Regions from separate parts of the Homo sapiens genome. Here region 2 is linked to region 1. Evidence: fine-mapped expression QTL. Tissue or cell type: whole blood. Region 1 holds a variant in brackets; the other region holds the start of a gene. All regions are shown on one strand. Distances are from middle to middle.

Region 1 (8,103 bases):
GTAATCCCAGTACTTTGGGAGACCGAGGGGGATGGATCACCTGAGGTCAGGAGTTCGAGACCAGTCTGGCCAACATGGTGAAACCCTGTCTCTACTAGAACTAAAAAATTAGCCGGGCGTAGGGGCGGGCGCCTGTAATCTCAGCTACTTGGGAGGCTGAGGCAGGAGAATCACTTGAACCCGGGAGGCAGAGGTTGCAGTGAGCCGAGATTGTGTCACTGCACTCCAGCCGAGGCCGACAACAGCGAGACTCCATCTCAAAAACAAACAAACAAACGAACAAACAAAAAAACACAGGCTGTCATTAACAGCTAATGAAGTCCATTTTATATAGTTAATGATTACCATGGTCTTTGTACAATATACCCAGGATTTTTAACACTACAGATACTTGACAGAATGAATGCTGTAGGACATAGTTTTGATTATTGTTGTGACTCTTAATCTGTCCTATTAAGTAACTCCTGGGCTGGCGTGGTGGCTCATGCATGTAATCCCAGCACTTTGGGAGGCCAAGGTGGGCGGATCACCTGAGGTCAGGAGTTCAAGACCAGCCTGGCCAACATGGTGAAACCCTGTCTCTACTAAAAACACAAAAATTAGCCAGGTGTGGTGGCGGACACCTGTAATCCCAGCTACTCAAGAGGCTAAGGCAGGACAGTCGCTTGAACCTGGGAGGCGGAGGTTGCAGTGAGCCGAGATTGTGCCATTGCATGCCAGTCTGGGTGACAAGAGCAAAACTCCATCTCAAAAACAACAACAAATAAATAAACAAATAACTCCTGTCTGAGCTCCCTGAAAGTGCTACCAAGTAACCATTTTTATTTTTATTTAGTTACTTATTTATTTTTTGGAGACAGAGTTTCGCTCTTGTCGCCCAGGCTGGAGTGCAGTGGCACGATCTAGGTCACTGCAACCTCCATCTCCCAGGTTTAAGCCATTCTCGTACCTCAGCCTCCTGAGTAGCTGGGATTACAGGCACCCACCACCACACCCAGCTAATTTTTGTATTTTTAGTAGAGAGGGGGTTTTGCCATGTTGGCCAGGCTAGTCTTTAACTCCTGACCTCAGGTGAACCGCCTGTTTCAGGCTCCCAAAGTGTTGGGATTTACAGGCGTGAGCCACCGTGCCCGGCCCAAGTAACTATTTTTACAACTGAGCATTTGGGAATTTCACCAAAACTCCTGGGCTACTTGGCAACACATAGATGTTGTGAAATCAGAATTAAGAATATTCAAAGTTTTTGGGGCAAGAGCTCTGAACATCATTAGAAAACCCCGTCTCCCAGAGAAGTATTGAGTAGTGGGTTCTTTTTTGTTTTGTTTTGTTTTTTTGAGGCTGAGTTTTGCTCTGTTGCCCAGGCTGGAGTACAATGGCGCGATCTCGGCTCACTGCAACCTTCACCTCCCGGGTTCAAGCGATTCTCCTGCCTCAGCCTCCCGACTAGCTGGGATTACGTGCACGCACCACCACACCTGGCTATATTTTGTATTTTTAGTAGAGACGGGGTTTCACCATGTTGGTCAGACTGGTCTCAAACATCGACCTCGTGATCCGCTCACCTCGGCCTCCCAAAGTGCTGGGAAGGCGTGAGCGAACGCGCCCGGCCCCAAGGGTTCTTACTATATACTGCAACATGCTGTCACCTCCGATGCTATCTAGCCCCAAATGTGCCAATTCTGTTTTGGATGTTACAGTACATTCTAATCAGTCTTTGTTCTAAGTACAAAGAATTTATTTGCAATAGCCTTTAACATATGGAATCTGAATTCACACAGGTCTACTCAGCAAGAAATAATTTGGATTCCCAACAACTCAAGAATAAGAAATGGGGCCCTCTCTAGTGTCTTGCCTATTTTTTACAGAAAAGTAGACGGCGAGACAGGGGTTCTAAAAACTGTTCCATTCCTAGGCACAGTGCATGAGGTAATTATGTCAACTCTCAGTAAAAGCATAAAAAAAAGAATGACCTGCCCATTACAGGGATATAGCAAAGGAACTGGAAACACTAAGTCTATCACTTACTTGGCCTACCTGCATGTGAATATAAAATACCATGTAATAATTATTTGACAGTAGATTAGAAACTAACTCCCATGTTTAAACTCGCTAAAACTCAGCTTCACTAATTTCCAGCTCTGACAAATGTGATTTTCATTGTCAGGAGCCACATGGGCCGCTGCTGGAAAGCGCTCAATGCATCCTTCCGAAATCTGACAGAGCAACCCCTTCATTAACACTTCTGAATGAGCTCCTTGTGTTTCTCTCAGTATCTGGTGCGAAAACCTCGGAACAGAAAAGCAGTAGTAACAGTAGCATAAAAAGAAAAAAAAAAGGAATAAAAAATAAAATGTTGGTTCCCACCTAACTTCACATTTGTCTTCAACTGAGTATTTCGTGTTTTGCGTCTGAGATTTTGGGGGGAGTAGTGGTGAATGTGAATTTCGGAGGGGCGAGAGGGAGGGTTCGGAAGCCTTTGGTGGCGACCGGCCAGGATCCACCTCAGTGACGAAGAACCAAAGTTCAGAGGATCCGCCGGGCAGGGCAGGGCCGGGTGGCGGTTGGCTAAGGGAGGAGAGGGCCTCAACGCTGGGCGGCGAGGCGAGGGCTCGGCGAGGCCCCCAAGCGGGGCCGCGGGACTGAGGAAGCTGTCCCTGCGGGGAGGTAAAGGGCAGCGGAGGAGCAGCAGCATCTCGGGAGAATGAAAGGCCCGCAAGGCTGAGCCGATCCTCAGGCGCCCTGAGCAGCAGCGACCGAACGGGGCGCCGGGCGGGGTAGGGAGCGGCGACGCCTCATACCTGGATGAGCACTTTCACGTACATGAGCGGCTGGGACAGGATGGTGAGACCGGAGCCCAGGAGCACCTGACTGGCCGCGTCCGCCATGATGGCACCCGCGGGCGGACGGACAGACAGACGGAGCCACCAAGCGACCCGGTGAGCCGGTCCTAGGTCACGTGCCAGGGCCGCCGGTTTCACTGGCCCGCCCGCGGCGCGCGCGCACGCACGCAGCAGCACGCGCCTCTCCGCCCAGTCCCCGCCCCCCCGTCCCGCCCCGAGAAACGGCAGGCGCTCGCGAGGGGGCGCTGAGGTCGGGGCGGGGCTTAAGGGACAGAGGCGCATGCGTTCTGCCGGGGGCTCGCCCTTCACCAGGAATGACGGTTTCTCTTGCACATGCGCTTCCAGGCCGCAAGTGTCCGGAAACAGAAGAATGGGAGTGTCAGTGGGGGAGTGTGACCGTGACGGCAGAGGCAAGGTCAGAGGACTGAAAAGAAATTGAAAAGGATTCTTCATTATGCTTCATCTCTGCACTTGCCTTTTGGGCATCATCAACATAGGATTCAAAAGATACTCAGCATCAGAGCCGTAACAGTCTCGTGACTGACAAACTCTAAATAAGTATAGCAAATAATGAATCCGCTAGCGAGTGGCTTTTCATTCATTTATTCGTTTGATTAATGTTATCTTTTCA[A/G]AAAAACCTTCTCTGACCATTCTAAAATTACCTCCCCCTTTTCTTTTTCTTTCTTTTTTTTTTTTTTTTTGAGACGGAGTCTCGCTCTGTCACCCAGGCTGGAGTGCAGTGGCCCGATCTCAGCTCACTGCAACCTTCGCCTCCCAGGTTCAAGCAATGCTCCTGCCTCAGCCTCCCTAGTAGCTGGGATTACACGCACACGCCACCACGCCCGGCTAATTTTTGTCTATTTAGTAGAGACGGGGTTTCACGATGTTGGCCGGGCTGGTCTCAAACTCCTGACCTCGTGATTCACCCGCCTTGGCCTCCCAAAGTGCTGGGATTACAGGAGTGAGGAGCCATCGCGCCTGGCCACCTCCCTCTTATTTTCTCCCACATTGTGCCCCGTCGTAGCATTATCACTGAAATTATGTCTCCTCCACTGGAATGAAAGCTCCATGAGTTCAGGAACCGTGACAGCCTCTGTTCACGGTTGTGTTTTCAGTGCCCAGCACATACGAGGTGCTCAATAAATATTTATTGCACAAGTGAACAAATACTTCAGTGCCTACCAGTCTACAGGCTATCAGAGGCAAAAGTGAAAAAGGCATTGTCCCTGCTCCTTCAGCCCCAGCTCACGTGTTCTATCAAACAACATTTGGTGAATCTGAGCTTGGAGCAGAGTGAAGTACTGTAGGGGAAAGACTTGGATTTGGATCCTGGCTTTTCCACTGCATCCATTTGTCATTTTAGCTACTTTAATTTCCAGTTTTTGTATCTAAATCTAACACTACTGTGTATCTCTCAGGGTTATTATGAGCATTAAGTGAAATTATGCATAGGAAAGGGTTTTTTTTAAAAAACTTTATATTGAAATACAGATATTGGCTGGGCACGGTGGCTCACACCTGTAATCCCAACACTTTAGAAGGCTGAGGTGGGTGGATCACCTGAGGTCGGGAGTTCAAGACCAGCCTGACCGACATGGTGAAACCCCATCTGTACTAAAAGTACAAAAATTAGTTGGGTGTGATGGCGGGTGCCTGTAATCCCAGCTACTCGGGAGGCTGAGGCAGGAGAATCGCTTGAACTCGGGAGTTGGAGGTTGCAGTGAGCCAAGATTGCGCCATTGCACTCCAGCCTGGGTGACAGGGCGAGACTCAGTCTCAAAAGAATAAATAAATAAAAAATAAAGTTGTAAGAAACAAGTTGCTTCTAACTGAATCTAGAAACATAAAGCTGAGCCAGAGAGACTATTTAGCAGGGGATTCTTTTCTTTTTTTTTTTGAGACAGGGTCTCTCTTTGTCACCCAGGCTGGAGTGCAGTGGTGCAATCTCGGCTCACTGCAACCTCCACCTCCTGGGCTCAAGCGATCCTCCTACCTTAGTCTCCCAATTAGCTGGGACCACAGGTGTGCACCACCATGCCCAGCTATTTTTTTTGTATTTTTAGTAGAGATGGGGTCTCGCCATGTTGCCCCAGGCTGGTCTCAAACTCTTGAACTCAAGTGATCCACCTGCCTCCCAAAGTGCTGGGATTACAGGTGTGAGTCACCACACCTGGTTGGATTATTTATTCTTGGATTTGTGCATTGATGGTGCCAAATAATATTGCCTTGTCCCACTGATGCTAGTGAGCATGGGGAGGCACAGAGCCTCTTGCCAGGGGTGGGTGGTTGGGGGATTCAGTCTGCTCCACAATATTTTCCAATGGTGTGAGGCAGAAGCTGCTGATGAGGTTTTGGGAAGAATCTGCAGAGAATAGGTAACCGAAGTCAGCAGTATAGATAAGGGAAGAGGTGCTATGTACAGCTGCCTAGGCTGTGCACTGCATAACTCAGAGTGGGGCCAGTCACAAAGACTATGATCTGAATGGCATTCCCTGATACAGTTCAGTATGATGACCCTAAGATGGGTTATATTTGCTGACCCATATTGCAGTGGTGAGAGGAATAACGGAAGTCAAAAGGGGCAGAATTAACTGGGAAGGAAACAGAACTAGAACAGCATGTCACTGAAGTCAACAGAAAAGTTTGGAAAAAGAAAGGATAGTCAATATGTCAAAAGCTTCCAAGAGGTCAATAATGAAGCCCAGAAGCCGGGCGCGGTGGCTCACGCCTGTAATCCCAGCACTTTGGGAGGCTGAGGTGGGCGGATCACCTGAGGTCAGGAGTTCAAGACCAGCCTGACCAACATGGAGATAACCCATCTCTACTAAAAAACAAAATTAGCCGGGCGTGGTGACACATGCCTATAATCCCAGGTACTCGGGAGGCTGAGGCAGGAGAATCGCTTGAACCCGGGAGGCGGAGGTTGCAGTGAGCCGAGATCATGCCATTGCACTCCAGCCTGGGCAACAAGAGTGAAACTCCATCTCAGAAAAAAATGAAGCCCAGGGAAGGCTGAATGGATTTACCAGTTAAAAGCCTCTTGGGAGCAGGGCACATGCCTGTAATCCCAGCACTTGGGTGGATTGCTTTGAGCTCGGGAGTTTGAGACCAGCCTGGGCAACATAGTGAAACCCCGTCTCTGCAAAAAAGAAAAAAAAATTAATTGAGCATGGTGGCTTGCACCTGTAGTCTCAGCTTCTTAGGAGGCTGAGGTGGGAGGATTGCTCGAGCCTGGGAAGCAGAGGTTACAGTGAACCGAGATTGTACCACTGCACTCCAGCCTGGGGGACAGAGTAAGAGCCTGTCTTGAAGAAAAAAAAAAAAGTCTCCTGGACTGGGAGGCGGTCTGACTTGGGAGAGAGATCACGTAATTGTCCAGTGGGTTCTTCCTGCCTGCTGCACAGACAAAATCAGTTCACTGAGACTGTGGCATTACAGTAAAGAAAGAGTTTAATTAACACAGTGTGGGCCATGTGGAAGAACTTAAGTTATCGCTCAAATCACTCTCCCCGACGGCTCAGAGGTGAGGGTTTTTCAAGGATGCTTTGGTGGCAGGGGGCTCAAATGGGGAATGTTGATTGGTTGGGGATGAAATCATAGGGGTATAGAAAGCGGTCCTTGACAGCCTCTGGATGGAGGCCACAGGACCAGATGTCATGAGTGGTGGGTCTGAGTGGAGTCAGTAGCCACCAAAACATCTCAAAAAGGCAATCTTAGATTCTATGTTAGTGATGTTATCTCTGCCAGGTGTGATGGTTTACGTCTGTAATCCCAGCATTTCAGGCAGAGGTGGGAGGATAGTTTGAGACCTGCCTGGGCAACACAGCAAGACCCCATTTTCCACAAAAAGGAGAAAAATAAAAAGACCAAAAAACCTCAAGTAATTGAAAAACGTCGTAAAAGGCCAATCTTAAGTTGTACAATAGTGATGTTATCTATAGGAGTAATTGGGAAAGTTACTCCTATATCTCGTGATCGCCAGAATAATGACTAGCTATCGTTTAACTGGGCCTGTATCTTAGCAAAATTCAAGCCCCTGTCTTAATCCTAACCTGGTCCAAGGCTGTCCAGGCTGGTCTTGAACTTCTGTGCTCAAGTGACCCTCCCACCTCGGCCTCCCAAAGTGCTGGGATTACAGGCATGAACCAGCTTACCCAGCCGGCATATATTTATTATATTTATTTTGCCTTATAGGAAGACCTGAGTTCAAGGAGCCTTCTGAGTTGGATGAGGCTGTGACACAAGAGTCTTACCAAATACCTAGATTCTTTCCATCCCTGTGCTCTTCCTCCTTAGGCCGGTATCAAAATAGTTTTGAGCCTCATATGCAACACTGATAGTCAGAGGAAGAAGAGAGAAGGGTTTTTGTTTCTGTTTTTGTTTTTTTGAGACAGAGTTTCACTCTTGTTGACCACGCTGCAGTGCAATGGTGTGATCTTGGCTCACTGCAACCTCCGCCTCCCGGGTTCAAGGAGGTTGCCTCAGCCTCCCGAGTCGCTGGGATTACAGGCGCCCAACACCACGCCCAGCTAATTTTTGTTATTTTTAGTAGAGACGGGGTTTTGCCATGTTGGTCAGGCTGGTCTCGAACTCCCAACCTCAGGTGATCTGCCTGCCTTGGCCTTCCAAAGTGCTGGGATTACAGGTGTGAGTCACCGCGTCCAGCCTTCGAGAAGGTGTCTTTTTAAAAATAGTTCTCTCTTTTTTGGCACACCAAAGCTCATCACAAAATGGCTCTTTTTTTTTTTTTTTTTTTTTTGAGACGGAGTCTCACGTTGTCACCCAAGCTGGAGTGGAATGGCACGATCTCGGCTCACTGCAACCTCTGTTCCCAGATTCAAGCGATTCTCCTGCCTCCTCCTCTTAAGTAGCTGGGACTATAGGAATGTGCCACCATGCCTGGCTAATTTTTTTTTTTGTAGTAGAGACGGGGTTTCACTGTATTAGCCAAGATGGTCTCGATCTCCCGACCTCGATGATCCGCCCGCCTCAACTTCCCAAAGTGCTGGGATTACAGGCATGAGCCACCATGCCTGGCTCTCAAATTGGCTCTTTTTGGAGGAAGAAACCTTTTCTCAGAAACCTCCCCAGCAGAATTCTCATGAATTACTGGACAGGAGTCACCCACCACCACCTAAACCAATGATTGGCTTAGACTAGTGGTTCTCAACAGGGTTAATTTTGGCCCTCAGGGGATACTTATCAAAGTCTGTGTTAGGGCTCCAAAACCAATACCCCAAAATGTATGGTATTTTGACATACT
Region 2 (8,103 bases), 79 kb before region 1:
GGGGTGGGCATAATGGACTCTCAGTACTATTTTTAAAACCTTTCTGTGCATCTAAATTATTCCACATTTAAAAGTTTATTCTGGCTGGGCGCAGTGGCTCACGCCTGTAAGCCCAGCACTTTGGGAGTCCGAGGCGGACAGATCACGAGGTCAGGAGATCGAGACCATCCTGGCTAATATGGTGAAACCCCGTCTCTACTAAAAATACAAAAAATTAGCCGGGCGTGGTGGTGGGCGCCTGTAGTCCCAGCTACTTGAGAGGCAGAGGCAGGAGAATGGCATGAGCCCGGGAGGCAGAGCTTGTATTGAGTGGAGATCATGCCACTGCACTCTAGCCTGGGCAACAGAGTGAGACTCTGTCTCAAAAAAAAAAAAAAAAAGTGTATTTCGCTGGGTGAGGTGGCTCAGGCCTGTAATCCCAGCATTTTGGGAGGCCGAGACAGGTGGATCACGAGGTCAGGAGATTGAGACCATCCTGGCTAACACGGAGAAACCCATCTCTACTAAAAATACAAAAAATAAGCCGGGTGTGGTAGCGGGCGCCTGTAGTCCCAGCTACTTGGGAGGCTGAGGCAGGAGAATGGCATGAACCCAGGAGGCGGAGCTTGCAGTGAGCCGAGATCGCACCACTGCACTCCAGCCTGGGCGACAGAACGAGACTCCGTCTCAAAAAAAAAAAAAAAAAAAAAAAGTTTATTCCACAAAGAGACACCACACCCACTAAAATGGCTATAATGAAAGACAGATAATAAGTGTTGGCAACCATGTGGCAACATTGGAACCCTCCATACTCTCCTGGTGGGGATGCAAAAAGGTGCAGTCCACTTTGGAAAACTGACAGTTCTTCAAAAGGTTAAACACTGTACTACCCTATGACCTAACAATTCCATGATTAGTCAAATATACAAGAGAAATGAAAACCTATGTCCGTAAGTTGTATGCAAATGTTCCCAGCAGCATTGTTCAAAATAGCCAAAAGTGGAAACAACTCAAATGTTCATAAACTGATAAATGGAGAAAAACATGTGGTCTGTCCATACATTGAAATATTATTTGGCAATAAAAAGAAGGACAGTCCTGATACTTGCTACAACATGGACGAACCTTGAAAACATTCTAAGCATAAGACAGGTATCAACACACAAGTGATATCTATTAAGAAAAAAAAAAAGCTGGGCGCAGTGGCTCACACCTGTAATCCCAGCACTTTGGGAGGCCGAGGCAGGCTGATCACCTGAGGTCGGGAGTTCGAGACCAGGCTAACCAACATGGAGAAACCCCGTCTCTACTAAAAATACAAAATTAGCCAGGAGTGGTGGTGCATACCTGTAATCCCAGATACTAGGGAGGCTGAGGCAGGAGAATTGCTTGAACCTGAGAGGCGGAGGTTGTGGTGAGCTGAGATTGTGCCATTGCACTCCAGCCTGGGTAACAAGAGCGAAACTCCATCTCAAAAAAAAAAAAAAAAAAGTTGGGTGGGGTGGCTCACACCTGTAATGCCAGCACTTAGAGAGGCTGAGGCAGGCAGATCGCTTGAGTCCAGGAGTTCGAGACCAACCTGGGCAATATGGTGAAAGCCTGTCTCTACCAAAAATACAAAAATTCGCCACCAGGTGTGGTGGTACGCACCTGTGGTCCCAGCTACTCAGGAGGCTGAGGTGGGAGAATTGCTTGAGCCCAGGAGGTAGAGGTTGCAGTGAGCTAAGATCACACCATTGCACTCCAGCCTGGGCAACAGGAGTGAAACTCTATCTCAAAAAAAAAAAAAAAAAAAAGCAGCCAGATACAAAGAACACATATTGTATGACTCCATTTATTTGAAATACCCTAGGCTGGATGCAGTGGTTCAGACCTGTAATCCCAGTACTTTGGGAGGCCAAATCAGGAGGATTGTTTGAGCCCAGGAGTTCCAGATCAGTTTTTTTTTGTTTTGTTTTGTTTTTTTTTTGATATGGAGTCTCACTCTGTCACCCAGGCTGAAGTGCAGTGGCGCGATCTTGGCTTATCACAAACTCCGCCTCCTGGGTTCAAGTGATTCTCCTGCCTCAGCCTCCCAAGTAGCTGGGATTACAGGCGCCCACTATTATACCTGGCTAATTTTTGTATTTTTTTAGTAGAGACGGGGTTTCACCATGTTGGCCAGGCTGGTCTCAAACTCCTGACCTCAGGTGATCTGCCTGCCTCTGCCTCCGCCTCCCAAAGTGCTGGGATTACAGGTGTGAGCCACTGTGCCCAGTCCCGAGATCAGTTTGGGCAACATAGTGAGACCCCATCGCTACAAATAATAAAAAATTAGCCAGGTATCGTGGCACACGTCTGTAGTCTCAACTCCTTGGGAGGCTGAGGTAGGAGGACTGCTTGCACCCAAAAGGTCGGGGCTACAGTGAGTCATGATCACGCTGCCACTGCACTCTAGCCTGGGTGACAGTGAGACCCTGTTTCCTAGAAAAAAAAAAAAGAAAAGTAAAAAGAAGAAATGCCCTCAACATGCTAAACATGTAAATCTATACAGTCAGAAAGCAGGTTAGTAGTGTTTGCCTAAGGCTGGAGGATGATTGGGAGAAAATGGTGAGTCTCTGCTAATTCATAAGGGGCTTATTTTGAGGGCAATGAAAATATTCTAAAATTAGGCTGGGTGCGGTGGCTCATGCCTGTAATCCCAGCACTTTGGGAGACCAAGGCGGGTGGAACACCTGAGGTCAGGAGTTCAAGAGCAGCCCGGCCAACATGGTGAAACCCCATCTCTATTAAAAACACACACAAAATTAGCCAGGCATGGTGGCGGGCACCTGTAGTTCTAGCTACTGGGGAGGATGAGGCAGGAGAACTGCTTGAACCCGGGAGGTGGAGGTTGCAGTGAGTGGAGATGGCGCCACTACACTTCAGCCTAGTCAATAGAAGGAGACTCCGTCTCAAAAACAAAATATAAAAAAAAGAAAATGAATCTTTTAAAACCACCAGATGGGCCGGGCATGGTGGCTTATGCCTGTAATCCCGGCACTTTGGAAGGCCGAGGGGGACGGATCTCCTCAGGTCAGGACTTTGAGACCAGTCTGGCCAACATGGTGAAACCCTGTCTCTACTAAAAATACAAAACTTAGCTGGGCGTGGTGGCAGCTACTCGGGAGGCTGAGGCAGGAGAATTGCTTGAACCTGGGAGGCAGAGGTTGCAGTGAGCTGAGATCACGCCATTGCACTCCAGCTTGGGTGACAAGAGTGAAACTCTATCTTAAAAACAAACAAACAAACAAAATCTCCACCAGATGCTTGGGCCGGGCGTGTGGCTCATGCCTGTAATCCCAACACTTTGGGAGGCTGAGGCTGGCAGATCACCATAGGTCAGGAGTTCAAGACTAGCCTGGCCAACATGGTGAAACCCCATCTCTACTAAAAATACAAAAAAAAAAAAAAAAAAAAAAAGAAAGCCGGGCGCGGTGGCTCATGCCTGTAATCCTGGCACTTTGGGAGGCCAGGGGGATGGATCACCTGAGGTCAGGAGTTTGAGACCAGCCTGGTCAACATGTTGAAGCCATCTCACTAAAAATACAAAACTTAGCTGGGCGTGGTGACATGTACCTGTAATCCCAGCTACTCGGGAGGCTGAGGCAGGAGAATTGCTTGAACCTGGGAGGCAGAGGTTGCAGTGTGCTGAGATCACGCCATTGCACTGCAGCTTGGGTGACAATAGTGAAACTCTGTCTCAAAAACAAAAAACAAAAAACAAAAACTCCACCAGATGCTTGGGCCGGGTGCAGTGGCTCATGCCTGTAATGCCAGCACTTTGGGAGGCTGAGGTGGGCGGATCACCTTAGGTTCGAGACCAGCCTGGCTGACAAGGTGAAACCTCGTCTCTACTAAAAACAAAAGTTAGCTGGGTGTGGTGGCATGCACCTGTAATCCCAGCTACTCAGGAGGCTGAGGCAGGAGAATCGTTTGAACCCGGGAGGCGGAGGTTGCAGTGAGCTGAGATCTTGCGACTGCCCTCTAGCCTGGGCAACAGAGTGAGACTCCGTCTCAAAACAAACAAACAAAAAGTAAATAGCTGGCATTACAACCATTCTTCTTACCTTTTTGTAGGTTGCAGGTTTTATATTTGAGCTCTTCATAATATTTTTCTTAAGGATATATTAATATAATGTATATTTTCCTATTTTTTCCTGCTATGTAAACACTGCTGTTTGGTCAGATGAAGGAGGGAGCCCTGCCCTAGGACAGGGGAGGGGAGGAGGAAGGCGACCTCAACCCAGGACCCCTGTTCACCCTGGGATCAGGCCCTCACCCAGGTAGCTCCTCTGTTTGAAAGCTCTAAGCCCTTCCACTGTCCTCTTCAGGGCTACCCCGCCACACAGCCTCTCCTTGTCTTGTCTTCCCTTTGGCGGGGTCACACCCGCACCTGGGTCACTGCCCCCTTCCTCTGGTCGAGGGTTGGGGGGAGTGTCCCCTCCTCCCTCGGCCGGAGTCACAGTTCCACACGCAGGGGTCCTTCCTGCCCCTCTCACCTGGGGTCACAACCCCCCTCCCTCGGAGGAGGGAGGTCACCGGCCACAGGCGGGGGCCTCAGTTTCCCACGCTACAGGGCTCACACGTGTCTGGCCTGCGACGCGCTCTCCCTTCGCCGGGGTCCCAGTTTCCCGCCCAGGAAACCTCGGTCCCTCCTCCGAGGCCGCCGGGCCCTCCTCCAGAGTCCCGCCAGTCCCCCAGAGTCCAGGCCAGTCCCCGCCGTCACCCGGTGCGAGCCCGCGAGAGGCCTAGTGCAGCTGGCAGCCCCGCCCCGGCACCCGCCTGCTCTTCTCGCGGGTCCGGACCGCGAGCGCGGGGGCCGACGGGTCGCCGCTGCGCCGGGCCGGGATGGCGGCCACCGCGCTGCTGGAGGCCGGCCTGGCGCGGGTGCTCTTCTACCCGACGCTGCTCTACACCCTGTTCCGCGGGAAGGTGCCGGGTCGGGCGCACCGGGACTGGTACCACCGCATCGACCCCACCGTGCTGCTGGGCGCGCTGCCGTTGCGGAGCTTGACGCGCCAGGTGAGCCGGGCCGGGGAGCCCGGGCCCCTGCCCCGTCCCCGCCGCTCCGTCCCTGTCGGGCCGCTGGGGTCTCCACCGTCTTTGCTGAGCCACCTCTTTGCCTCGGCAGCTGGTACAGGACGAGAACGTGCGCGGGGTGATCACCATGAACGAGGAGTACGAGACGAGGTTCCTGTGCAACTCTTCACAGGTGAGGGACCGGGCCGAGGGGCAGGCTCGGGGGCCCGCTCCCCCTCGCCCACCGCCCTGAGCCTGGGACGGCTAGAGAAGTGTGGGGGAGGTCACCATGCACCGGAGCCAGGTGTCTCAAGCTGCTTTGCCTCCGGTCTGTGCCTCTAAATGGCACCTGGAGGTAGGCTAGAAGCTGTGAAAGGCGTTTATTTAAAAGTTCAAGTTGGGCCGGGCGCGGGGACTCACGCCTGTAATCCCAGCACTTTGGGAGGCGGGAGGAGGAGGCGGGCAGATCACTTGAGCCCAGGAGTTCCTGACCAGCCTGGGCAACATGGCGAGGCCCCCGTCCCTACAAAAATACAAAAAGTAGCCGGGAGTGGTGGCGTGCGCCTGTACTCCCAGCTACTTGGGAGGCTAAGGCAGGAGAATCACTTTAGCCCGGGAGGTGGAGGTTGCAGTGAGCCGACATCTCGCCATTGCATTCCAGCCCAGCCTTGGGCGACAGGAGTGAAACAATGTCTCAAAAAAAAAAAAAAAAAAAGTGGAAGTTGACAAAGCCTGATTTCTCCTTTGTGAACAAATGTAATGTATTCTTATTTCGGTAACCAAAATCAGAAACTAAAATTGAAAGGCAACTTTCCCATGCCTTCCTGATTTCATTCATTCTTTCTATACTTTGAGCTCTGAGTATGGGTCAGCATTCCCAGTGTTAGGGATTCCAGATGAAGGCCCTGCCAACTGTAAGACGAAAAGCACCCCCTTAACACTCTCCCCTCCCCAGATTTTTCATAAAACTATCCATTGAAAACTGTAGAGTTCATTTGGCTCTGATTTGGGGGAATTTTTAGTCATATATTAGAAATCATGGTGGAACTCCAAAGTTCTCTCATAACAAAGTTTAGGCCTAAAACATAACTTTCATTAAATGTGACTGGCCTGTTTGTGGAATCTTCCACAATGGTTATTAGAAGATGTTATCTACAATCTGAGCTATTTGATTTTTTTTTAATGTTGCCCTATCTTTATAGCGTTTGGCATCTAATAGCACTAAACAATTATCTTTCTCATTTGTTTTACTGATATAGCATGATGAAGATACTATTATTTCAACCTGAGGATTTTTTTGAAACCTTGAAAATATTTGTGACTTGGCCAGGCGTGGTGGCTCTCACACCTGTAATCCCAGCACTTTGGGAGGCTGAGGTGGGTGGATCACCTGAGGTCAGGAGTTTGAGATCAGCCTGGCCAAAATGGTGAAACCCCGTCTGTACTAAAATCACACAAAAAAATTAGCCGGGCGTGGTGGCAGGCGCCTGTAATCCTAGCTACTTGGGAGGCTGAGGCAGGAGAATCGCTTGAACCCGGGAGGCAGAAGTTGCAGTGGGCCGAGATTGCACCACTGCACGCCAGCCTGGGCGACAGAGTGAGTCTCCGTCTCAAAAAAAAAAAAGAATTACTGATCTTCATTTAGAACCATAAAGTCTCTGATACTCATTATTAAGAGGTTAATAACAAGAGTAGCTGGAGCATATCTGAAGTCTTAAAGCATAAAGTTTGCCCAGTTGCCAGAGACCTTATTTCTATTTCTTTTCTTTTTTTTTTTTTTTTTTTGAGATGGAGTCTCACTCCCTTGCCCAGGCTGGAGTGCAATGGTGCAATCTCAGCTCACTGCAACCTCTGCCTCCCAGTTCAAGTGATTCTCCTGCCTCAGCCTCCCAAGTAGCTGGAATTACAGGTGCCTGCCAGCATGCCTGGCTAATTTTTGTATTTTTTATGGAGATAGGGTTTTGCCATGCTGGCCAAAGTCGTCTCGAACTCCTGACCTCAGGTGATCTGCCCACCTTGGCCTCTCAAAATCTGGGATTACAGGCGTGAGCCACCACACCTGGCCACCTATTTCTTCTAAGTGATAACATTGCACTAATGAAGGTCAGTGCATTGTTTTAATTTTATTTTTGTTTTTGTTTTTGAGACGGAGTCTTGCTCTGTCGCCTAGGCTGGAAGTGCAGTGGCACGATCTCGGCTCACTGCAAGCTCCGCCTCCTGGGTTCATGCCATTCTCCTGCCTCAGCCTCCCAAGTAGCTGGGACTACAGGCGCCTGCCACCATGCCCGGCTAATTTTTTTGTATTTTTAGTAGAGACGGGGTTTCACCGTGTTAGCCAGGATGGTCTAAATCTCCTGACCTCGTGATCCGCCCGCCTTGGCCTCCCAAAGTGCTGGGATTACAGGCATGAGCCACCATGCCCGGCCCATTGTTTTAATTTTAAAATGATAACCCTATTTTCTACCATATGTTCCCTCAAAAAACAGTGGTAAAAAAGAGACTTATGGACAGAGAAATAGAAAGCCTTGGCAAAATATTGTACCCCAAATCTGCAGCTGAATCACTACACAGGTGCCAAAATTATGCAAAAAAATTACACTGGCTGGGCCTGGTGGCTCATGCCTGTAATCCCAGCATTTTGGGAGGCTGAGACAGGAGGATGGCTTGAGGCTAGGAGATTGAGACCAGCCTGGGCAACATAGCGAGACCCCCATCTGCACACACACAAAAATAACAAAATTAGCCAGGCACAGTGGCATGCAGCTGTAGTCACAGCTACTTGGGAGGCTGAGGTGGGAGGACTGCTTGAGCTTAGGAGTTTGAGGCTGCAAGGAGCCATGATTGCATACCACTGCTCTCTGACCTGGGTGACATAGCAAGATCGTGTCTCTAAAATAAAATATATATATATTTTTGAGATGTTGTTTTGCTCTTGTCTCCCAGGCTGGAGTACAATGGTGCGATCTCTGCTCACTGCAACCTCTCCCTCCAGGGTTAAACAATTCTCCTGCCTCAGCCTCCCTAGTAGCTGGGATCACAGGCATCCACCACCACGCATGGCTAATTTTTGTATTTTTAGTAGAG

Evidence for each region. PIP is the estimated chance that this variant, and not a neighbour inherited with it, causes the effect.
Region 2: it holds the start of PTPMT1, and the variant in region 1 is fine-mapped to the expression of PTPMT1 in whole blood (TOPMed, PIP above 0.99).

The regions. Positions count from the first base shown.
Region 1 is chr11:47,639,581-47,647,683 of GRCh38, forward strand. MTCH2 (mitochondrial carrier 2) reads right to left here and starts at 2,979. Exons shown (of 13, transcript NM_014342.4): 1 at 2,799-2,979. The coding sequence starts at 2,885. RefSeq lists a silencer at 2,900-3,169. The variant A/G (reference allele first, on the strand shown) is at 3,472.
Region 2 is chr11:47,560,775-47,568,877 of GRCh38, forward strand. It overlaps PTPMT1 (protein tyrosine phosphatase mitochondrial 1), which reads left to right and starts at 4,825. Exons shown (of 4, transcript NM_175732.3): 1 at 4,825-5,022; 2 at 5,132-5,212. The coding sequence starts at 4,849. It also overlaps a transcript of CELF1 not described here. RefSeq lists enhancers at 4,336-4,836, 4,837-5,337 and silencers at 4,647-5,126, 5,257-5,336.